Linked DNA regions of Homo sapiens: region 1 is linked to region 2. Evidence: fine-mapped expression QTL. Tissue or cell type: activated CD8 T cells. Region 2 holds a variant in brackets; the other region holds the start of a gene. All regions are shown on one strand. Distances are between the middles of the regions.

Region 1 (5,378 bases), 33 kb before region 2:
TATAATTACTATATATACAGTATACTATATATATACACACATACTATATACTATATATAGAGACAGTATACTATATATATACACACATATATATACATATATACATATATATAGCGACAGTATACTATATATATACACACACACACACACACACATACATATATATACACACACACATAATATATATATATATATAAACTGTGCGTGGTGGCTCACACCTGTAGTCCTAGCTACTCAGGGGGCCGAGGCAGGAGAATTGCTTGAACTCAGGAGCCAGAGGTTGCAGTGAGCCAAGACTGTGCCACTGCACTCCAGCCTGGGTGACAGAGTGAGACTCAGTCTCAAAAAAAAAAAAGTGAAACCCCATCTCCACTAAAAATACAAAAAAAAAAAATAGCTGGGCTTAGCAGCAGACACCTGTAATCCCAGCTACTTGGGAGGCTGAGGCAGGAGAATCGCTTGAACCTGGGAGGCGGAGGTTGCAGTAAGCAGAGATTGCACCACTGCACTCCAGCCCGGGGGACAGAGTGAGACTTCATCTCAAAAAAGAAAAACAACAACAGCAACAACAGAAAAGAAGTAACTCAAAATGTTTCAAAGAAGTAACTCAAAATGTTTTTCTTTCTTTCTTCCTTTTTCTTCTCTCTTTCTTTCTTTTTCTCCTCTCTTTTTCTTCTCTCTCTCTTTCTTTCTTTCTTTTTCTTTCTTTCTTTCCTTCGTTCTTTCTTTCTGTCTCTCTCTCTTTTCTATTTTTTTTTTTTGATGGAGTCTCGCTCTGTTGCCCAGGCTGAAGCGCAGTGGCGTGACCTTGGCTTACTGCAACCACTGCCTCCCGGGTTCAAGTGATTCTCCTGCCTCAGCCTTCCGAGTAGCTGGGACTACAGGCGTGTGCCACTACACCCGACTAATTTTTGTATTTTTAGTAGAGATGGGGTTTCACCATATTGGTCAGTCTGGTCTTGAATTCCTGACCTCATGATCCACCCACCTTGGCCTCCCAAAGTGCTGGGATTACAAGCATGAGCCCCTGCGCCTGGCCTAGCACCTTCTAGTTCTAATTAGGCTGCATCCATGAGGGTGGAAGAACTGTCTCTGGAAACAAGCAGTAATTAGGATGAGAAAAGTTGTGTTTTATGGGGTTATGCAGTGGTGGGCTTTGTTTGATCGTTTAATGGGGGAAAACATGGAAACTCATGCCCCCTAAAACGTTTATATAATAGTATCCCCGCACTGAATTTTTCTACGTCAGACTTGGCCCATACAATTTAGAGTTGCTGTCCTGTGCTTTTATGTTGCTTTCCCAGTTTCTCTATTTCCATCAGCAGCTGATATCTTTGTAGTTGCTCTAGAGCAGAGGGCTCAGTCTTTTCAATCTTGTGGTCCCTTTACACTCTTAAGAATTATTGAGAACCACCAGGAATTTTTGTTAATGTGGATGGGTTATATCTAGCTATATTTATATATTTTAAGTTAAGGCTAAGGAATTTAAAAATATTCATTTATTGATTCATTTTAAGATAGTGATGCACCTATTTCATGCTAACACCAATAACTTATTTTTATGGAAAAAAAACAACAAAATGAAAACAGCGCTTTAGTTCACATTTTTGCAAATCTCTGTAATACCTGGTTGAAACGGAGACAGTGGGAGTCTCCTCACTGCTTCTGCATTTGCAGAACCACACCCCACACTCTTGGGAGCATGAGAATGAGAAGGGCAAGTAACACAGAGGGTCATTAGATAAATGGTTTTGACCTTATGGACTCTCTGAAAGGAATAGGAAGTCCTCAGGGGTCCCCTGCATCGAGGCCTCCCTGATCAAGGGAGCCAAGCTCCAAGGGTTGCTGGGGAGCTGGAGGAGGTGAGATGGGGCAGAGAGGCCGTTGTCACCAAAAGCGTGTTTAGGCTCCATTCACTTCACCCCAGGTGGCCTACTGAGCCCACATGGCCACCAGCGCAACTGAAGCAGACCCCGATAGAATCCTGTGTAGAATTATTTTAGGATTCACCCATCTTGGCATGCACAAGCCATTTCAATTGAAGAATGTTTTCTAATAACAAAACATTGTAAACCTAAGTATGTGGCAATAGTAATGATTAAGTAAATTATGGTTTCCCGAAGCCCAGTGCTCTGCAGCCATCAGAGAGTAAAAGCGAGAATGTGTTCAGTGGAGATAGCCTCAGGATATTTAAAAGCAGAGAGCACAAAGTATAGAATCGTGTTGTGTATGTTATGACCTTTTTTTCTGTGCTTTTGAAAAAGAGAATACACGTATAGCAGGAAAAGACACACCAAACTACTTTATATAATTGGTTGTTTTTGTGTTTGGTAAGATGTATGCACTGAAGAGGAAGGTTTCGATTTTTTTTTTTTTTTTTTTTTTTTTTTTGAGACAGGGCTTTGCTCTGTCGCCCAGGCTGGAGTGCAGTGGCGCGATCTCAGCTCACTGCAGCCTCGACCGCCCCGGCTCAAGCGATCCTCCCACCTCAGCTGTCCCAGTAGCTAGAACTACAGGGGCGCCACCACGCCTGGCGAATTTTTTGTAGAGATGGGTTCTCTCCAGGTGGCCCAGGCTGGTTCTGAACTCCCGGGCTCAAGGGATCTTCCTGCTTCAGCTTCCCAAAGTGCGGGGATTACCGGCGTGAGCCACCGCGTCCCGCCTGTTTTTAATTTTTAGCAGTTTTAAATCTTCTGGCAATGAGTAATGTTATAGTGTCCCAGATGTTTGGTCCTTTAAGAAAAGGATAGCAGGACGGGTTATCTCGGTGGGAGCGTGTTCCACCTCTGCCCTCCGCCAGCCGCCCTCGCCGGGGATGCACCCAGGTATTTTCCTCCGGATGCGTGAGTGGCTCGCCCGCGGACACGCCAGCCCCGCCCCGCGAGCCCGGTTTCCCCGCCCCCTCCCCGCCCACGCCCTGCGCTCCCTTCCTATTGGTCCCATGCCGCGCTTTCCCGTTCAATCGCAGCGCTTAGCGCCAGAATTTGAATCTTCGTTTTCGTTTGAATTGGGCGGGCGCGCCGGGCTGGAAGAAGGAAGTGGAGGGCTGACGCTGCGGGCGGGCGGGCGGGCGGGAGGACTCGACTCGGTGGGAGCCGCTAGAGCCGGGCGCCCGGGGACGTAGCCTGTAGGGCCACCGGGTCCCCGTCAGAGGCGGCGGCGGGAGCAGCGGGGACTGCAGGCCGGGGTGCAGCGAACGCGACCCCGCGGGCTGCGGCCCGGTGTGTGCGGAGCGTGGCGGGCGCAGCTTACCGGGCGGAGGTGAGCGCGGCGCCGGCTCCTCCTGCGGCGGACTTTGGGTGCGACTTGACGAGCGGTGGTTCGACAAGTGGCCTTGCGGGCCGGATCGTCCCAGGTGAGCTGCGGCCGGGACTCCTGGGAGCTGTCCGGGGTCGAGGGCTGAGCCGCGGGGACCCCCCGAGCTCTGCGGGGACGGGCAGGGGACAGACGCGCGGCCTGGGCCCGACTCCTCCTGGGCTCTGGCGAGGGCGTCTCGGTGGAAGCTCCCAGGAGGCGCAGGCGCTGGCGACAACACCCCAGCTGCCGGACTTTGGGGCGCCGGGGGCTGCGGTCGGATCGTCCTGGGGTCCCCGCTAGCTAGCTGCGGTGTGCGCTTCTGTGGCCGGGGATAGGTGAATTGGGCACGGGGCCCTTCTTAGCTCCTTTGCTATCAGAGTAACTCGCACCTCTTTTGCAGTGGAAGAGTTGTAAATTTGCTTCTGGCCTTCCCCTACGGATTATACCTGGCCTTCCCCTACGGATTATACTCAACTTACTGTTTAGAAAATGTGGCCCACGAGACGCCTGGTTACTATCAAAAGGAGCGGGGTCGACGGTCCCCACTTTCCCCTGAGCCTCAGCACCTGCTTGTTTGGAAGGTGAGCCCCGCGGGCGCGCGCGGACGTTTTAGCTGAGAAAGAGGAAAATACCTTAGTCACAGAATAAAGTCCAGAAACGCGCTCTAGGATTGGGTCCTGCCGTCACTTTTCCTTGGTGCTTCTCCCATTCGTTACTAAGTTGACATAGTTGTGTTTTTTTGTTTTGTAAGTATAAATTTGATGCTAGTTTGTATGTTTAAGTGGTTTTAAAAATCAAGCCAATTAAAAAAATCGATTTGCTAATGTTGCGGTAAAGAAAGATGTAGATGATCTTCATATGTCACTGGCTGCAGGCAGGCGTCTGAAGACACTGTGCGCCCCCGGGTGCCTCCACAGTGGGCATCCCTGGCCACTGGGGACACAGAGAATGAAGGAAGGAAGCCATACACTTGTCTCTTGGCTCCTTGTGGCAATAGGAAAATGGGACAGAAAGTCTTCCTGCCTGGAATTCGAGAACGTTTCCTCTTATATTGCTGTCCTGTTTGGTGGTGGTAATAACCCTGTCCCTGTATAACAGGTATAGTTGCTGACAGTGCCCCATCAGCCTCTGACATGTGTCCCACTAGAGGCCTGAGAAGGGGGGTCATTTCCCGTGTGGTCATTTCCCAGACCACACGGGATTCAGGCCTCACCCTGTCCTCCCAACCCCATCCCGGCCTCACCCTGTCCTCCCAACCCCATCCCCTACCTTGTTCCTCCCGCCTAAGGCATTCCAAGCCTTTGTTCACCTTGGTACTTCTTACACACTTGGAAGTTTACAATGGGAAAGTTCTCCCCTTCCTCAAGCTTGTGTGATTTCCATCATTCAGGCATCAGGTGAAATGTCACCTCTGAGGAAGCCTTGCATGAAAACTTGTATTTCCAACCCCACAGCTTCAGGGGTGAGTTGTGGGTTTGTCTCCCACTAGGCTGAGCTCCCCAAAGGCAAAGACTGTCTTGTTACTAATCACGTGTGTAGGGCCAGGGATGGTGTCTGGCATAGGGGGTGTGATCAATACCTAGCATTCTGGCAAGGGTCAGTAGAAACATGGGCTGGAGCCATGGATTTGCAATCTCTTGAGAACAGTGGTTCTCACAGGAGGGTCATCTAACCTTCCAGGATTCATTTGAATTTCCATGTCACAATATAGGACAGGGGCATGCGCTGTCATCGCGGAGGAGAGGTCAGGGTGGGCATCCTACCAGGCTCAGGGCAGCCCCCACAATACAGAAGCATCTGGCCCAAGATGTCAACAGTGCCAAAGCTCAGAAACACCCATCTATAGTCGTCCTCCTGCCAAACAAATTCTCAGTTGTAAGGGATAGTCTTTCCTTTGCTCTGATGTCCTGTTACCTTAAAATCAAATTATTTTATTGGGGTTAAGGAAGCTTTTCACTTTCCATAGATACCTTTCTCTTGAAAAGGAAAAATATAAACATTTCATCTCCAGTGGCAGTCCTTTTGCTTTTTTATACAGTACTCCTTGAATATATCTTCATGCAAGATTTTATAATTTAGAA
Region 2 (5,378 bases):
TGGCAAACGGCGACTCCATAAAGTAAACTGTAGCTACTTAACTAAATGATTTCGTGTGGCTGAGATCCTACTGTTTGCTGGGTTTCCTGGAAAAGTCCTCTAGATGAACTGCAGGAATCTCCTGGCACTCTGGTTACAGCTGGAGAAACTGATTTCTGTGCTGTCCAGGTGCTCCCAGACCCCCAAGGCATCTCCAGGACACAGTCACCAAACCCCCATCCTGGTATTACTGGCATTGAGTGCCACGTAGGCACACAGCACTCCATAATTTGGAAATGTGGATTTCATTGCTATTGCTCTTCATGAGGGAACAAATAATACCCATGATGTATTGGCAGGAAGCCACGCCCCCCCTCCCCCGCTGCCACCCCCACAGCGCGCACAGTGATTTCAGGAAGGAGGTTTGATTGGTTTGTTGTGTGTTGCCCTGCAAGGGCCCCAATCAGCTTCCTGCTCATCAGCCCCATCTCAGGCAAGTCCCACATCTGTGATGTCAAGCCCTGAGCCGGGTAATTGGACTTGGATACCTGCTTGACTCATCTTTCCAGTGAGGTTCCTAAGGAGCATCCCCAACCCCACCTCCCAGGGGGAGCTCTCGATGTCACCTGAAGAACAAACAAACAAAAACTGTGTTGATGGTACAGTCCCAGGGCTCCGTGACTGGACAGGCTCCCTGCGTGATACACCTGTGTATGTCACTACAGAAATACAGCTGGTGCAGGCCTGTCCGCCTCTCTCACAGGTCAGAGTGTTCTAAAATCCATCCTGGCCCTTGTTGTCTGTCTGCTTGGGGTTAGGGCAGGTGCTCCTTTATCATTTGTAAAGTTTATGTGATGTCTGGTATGTGTTCCACACCCTTGCAGAGTGTAAATTCCTAGAGAGAGTTCAGACTTCGGAGTCAAATGCACAGGTGCAAATTCCAGCTTGTCTAATTTGCTGCTGTGTGAACGTGGACAGTCTTTCAACTTTGCTAGTTTCCCATCTGTAAAATGAGGCTGTTCAGTACCTGAGCACATAGCATTGTTGAGAAGATTAAATGAGACAATATGTGTAAAACACTTAGCATTTTACCCAGAGCTTGGTAAGCATCAATACATGCTAATTATCATCATCATCAGAAGATGAATATATTTATTAGATGCCTAAAACTCCAAGATATTTCCCTTGGCTCATAAATTCTTTATCACTAGGGATTTCTCTATGGAAGTGAAGGAAGAATCTGGAACGTAACAGGCCTGAATAACCAGGGGCAGTGGCTCACACCTGTAATCCCAGCACATTGGGAGGCCAAGGCTGGAGGATCGCTTGAGGCCAGGAGTTCAAGATCAGCCTGGGCAACATAGCGAGACCCCATCTCTACAAAAAAAAAAAAAAAAGAAAAAAGAAAAGAAAAAATTAGCGGGCATTGTGGCACATACCTGTAGTCCCAGCTACTTGGGAGGCTGATGTGGGAGGACTGCTTGAGCTCAGGAGTTCAAGGCTGCAGTGAGCTATGATTGTATCACTGCACTCCAGCTTGGTCAACAGAGCAAGACCCTGTCTCAAAAAAGAAAAATAAAAATCCTGAATAATATGTCTATGTCTTCATCGAGCCCACGTATTGAAAACTACCCAAACCACCAACAATGCAAAGAAACATTATTTAACTAAGAGTCGAGTAACCAAATTTCAGGGTTATCCAAACTGAATATGGCCTCTGCAGGAGAAAAGAATATGTGTGATGTGGCAGCCACAATCTGATACCATATTAACACTGTCTTTTATTTTTTTTTTTTTGAGACGGTCTCACTCTGTTGCACAGGTTGGAGTGTAGTGGCACAATCTTGGCTCACTGCAACCTCTGCCTTCAAGGTTCAAGAGATTCTCCTGCCTCAGCCTCTGAGGAGCTGGGATTACAGGCATGCACCACACATACCTGGCTAATATTTGTAATTTTTTTTTTAGGAGAGACAGGGTTTCACCATGTTGGCCAGGCTGGTCTCAAACTCCAGACCTCAGGTGATCCAGCCACCTTGGCCTCCCAAAGTGTTGAGATTACAGGCGTGAGCCACCATGCCCAGTCAACAGTGTCTTTAAATGACATCAGATCGCAGAACTTTGCTGAGCTTGGCCCAGACACAGGTCTGGCTAAAACAGGTGGTGCTGGGACCAGGCATGGCCAGGACATAGGGAAGCACATCCCTGCATAGAAAAGGTTCTGTGGATTTTAATCCAGGTCAGCAATTAGCAAACTTTTTCTGTCAAGGACCAGGCAGTAAATATGGCGGCTTCGTGGGCCATACTGTCTGTTATGCTGACTCACCTCTGCTGTTAAAGAACAGAAGCGGCTGTAGGCAACACGCAAGCAAACAGGCATGTCCAAAAAATGGCTAATAAAAACAGGCTGTGGGGCTGGGCACGGTGGCTCACGCCTGTAATCCCAGCACTTTGGGAGGCTGAGGCGGGTGGATCACTTGAGGCCAGGAGTTCGAGACCAGCCTGGTCAACATGGCGAAACCCAGTTTCTACTAAAAATACAAAAATTAGCCAGGTGTGGTGGTGGGCCCCTGAAATCCCAGCTACTCAGAAGACTGAGGCAGGAGAATTGCTTGAACCAGGGAGGCGGAGGGTGCAGTCAGCTGAGATCCAGCCCACTGTACTCCAGCCTGGGTGACAGAGTGAGATTCCATCTTAAGCAAAACAAAACAAAACAAAACAAGCAAGAAAACAACAACAACAACAAAAACCAGGCTGTGGGCCCATTTTGACTGAGGACCTTGGTTTGCATATCCCTGATCTAGAGAAATGAGTGATTTAACATATATGCCTCCTAGG[A/C]CATATCACATTGAAATTAGCAGCCCTTGCAATATAACGGGTCATGAGCAGAGGGTGCATTTCACTTTGGGCTTTGGGGTCTTCCCGGGCCCTGGAACCCCCACCGGCTCCCAGCCCCAGGACGTTGGAAGCTGAGAGGCCTGGCTTCCAATCCCAGCCCTGTCCCTTGCTCGCTGCATGACTTGGGCCCATTGCTTGGCCTTTCTGAGCCTCAGTTTCCCTAGCTGGGAGAGTGAAGATGGCAATTTCTTGCCTCGTAGGGTTGTGAGGACAAAAGAAGAAAACTCGGGTGGATTGTGTAGCCTGGCCCCCATTCTCAGAAGGTCTCCAAGCGGTGCCGTCTTCCTCTTATCCCAGCGTGGCCTCAGCCTTCGAGAGGCCTAGAACTCTGGGAAAGGAGCAGTCAGGACTGGACACGACTCCAGGCTTTTCTTATTTCTTGTGTGGGGTCTGGAAAAGGAGAAGTGCAATTATATCCAAGGCCCCTCTTGGGCAGGGGTCTCAGATCCAGGCCAGGCTGATATGAGCAAGGGGAGGCGGGTCAGGCCAGGCAGCACTGTCAATTTTGATGTTGGGAGGGAGGAGGGGCATGACTGTGTATCAGCAAATTCCTAAATTTCCACCCTGGCTCGGGAGATGCAGCTTGTGCTGAAGTGAGTCACTTATTCCTGGGCCCCTCATCTGCCTGCTTGCTTCCATGTCCCCTAGAGCCAAAAACAACTATAGGAGCAACTTAGGGGAAAAGTTACCTATATTTATATATAAGCGTATGTATTTATATATAAATATGATAACTATAGATATAATCTAATATATTGTGTATAATATAAATTAAATATATTTAATGTAATGTATATAACTTAAGTATATTATATATTCATAACTATATAAAATATATAAATATACTAAATATTATTCACTAGGTTTTCATCATTGGCAACCTAAGTTCTATATAAATATATAAATATTATCTATGAAAATTTATACACAAATATGTATATAAAATGTTATAAATATATACATACATATTTAAGTAAAAATAATATATACATAAAATATATTATATGTTTATATAGATTTAGGTTGGCAATGATAAAAACTTAATGAAGAATTTTTAGTGTAATAAAAACTAGTCTCGTGGTAGCTCTTTGTGTTTCAGAATCCAGCTATTTGGCTCTGGGCCCGCCCTCTGTTACTCCGAGAAAGCACTGCTTTGGAGGTAACACAACGCTAGGTGGCCCCTGAGGCTCCCTGAGCACCGTCCGATACCCCTCTCAGAAGCACCTCTGCCCCCTCCTCTGTACAGCCCGCTTTGCTCGCCTGCCTCTTCCTTTGGATTCCAGGTTGGTCGGGGAAGCAATGGGCCATGTGTGTGCACCGTCTGTGCCTGCCTTCACCCACACGAGCCTGTTGGAAGACGACAGCCATATGGAAGACCGCTGAGCTACCCCGGCCCCCCAGCCCAGGCTAGTTGGGGTTACCCAACTACCAGCCAATCCCCAGACGTGAATGTGAATAAGCCCAGCCAGCATCACAGAGCTGCCTCGTCAATGTCTAGCTGACCCCAGATGCCACCTAAACAATTTGGGTTTCTCACGGCAGTTCTCTTCCCAACCTCTGTTCCCCTGGGTTCCTAAGAACTAAGGGTTGTGCCCACCAATCAAAGCAAGAGGGAAACGGGCCTTGGATTTTAAGGCGTTGCACTGCTGTGACTTGAAAAGGGATATGGTTTAAAATCATTCATTTAGGCCGGGCATGGTGGCTCACGCCTGTAATCCCAGCACTTTGGGAGGCCGAGGCAGGTGGATCATGAGGTCAAGAGATCGAGACCATCCTGGCCAACATGGTGAAACCCTGTCTCTACTAAAAATACGAAAATTAGCTGGGTGTGGTGGCTGGTGCCTGTAGTCCCGGCTACTCAGGAGGCTGAGGCAGGAGAATCGCTTGAACCCGGGAGGCGGAGGTTGCAGTGAGCCGAGATCGTGCCATTGCACTCCAGCCTGGCGACTGAGCGAGACTCCATCTCAATAAATAAATAAACAAACAAATAAGTAAATGATTAAAAATCAGTCACTTAAAGACATATTCTAAGATGAGACCCTCTTGCTCTATAAAACTGAAGGTCGTGTCCACTAAGAAGAGTGGATCTGACCTCAGCCCTGCACTGTGACGCCACATTCCATTAGGGCAGAGGAACAGCATCTGGCAAGAGAGGTCGTCCCAGAATTCTAAAGAGGCAGGATGGCCCTAGTATTCAAACTTGGACCACACAGATCTGCACGTCTCTCATCCCAGAAAGGAGAACCCAAAGTATGTGTCTCGGTTCATGATTCTGAGGATGAGGGAATTATGGAAGGCACCAAGTCCATTCATAAAACACACCACCCCCTCCCTGTCCCGGTTAATGACAGTGGGTGGTGGCTTGAGCATCAAAGTGGCCCATGATGTCTTGGTTTTGCTATCTGGTTATGCCATCTGGCTTTCTTGGTCTTCGTCCATTCATTTCCCTGGAGTCCTGGCCATGCTTTGCTTCTTACTAACCTTATGCAGAAGCCAAGGCAAGC

The links. PIP is the estimated chance that this variant, and not a neighbour inherited with it, causes the effect.
Region 1: it holds the start of MKI67, and the variant in region 2 is fine-mapped to the expression of MKI67 in activated CD8 T cells (Schmiedel 2018, PIP 0.95).

Annotation. Positions count from the first base shown.
Region 1 is chr10:128,124,076-128,129,453 of GRCh38, reverse strand. It overlaps MKI67 (marker of proliferation Ki-67), which reads left to right and starts at 3,031. Exons shown (of 15, transcript NM_002417.5): 1 at 3,031-3,355; 2 at 3,698-3,878. The coding sequence starts at 3,787. RefSeq lists an enhancer at 2,542-2,771 and a silencer at 2,882-3,251.
Region 2 is chr10:128,090,713-128,096,090 of GRCh38, reverse strand. No RefSeq gene overlaps it. Among named protein-coding and RNA genes, the nearest start is that of AS-PTPRE, 31 kb to the right of the region's middle. RefSeq lists enhancers at 3,703-4,202, 4,203-4,704. The variant A/C (reference allele first, on the strand shown) is at 2,815.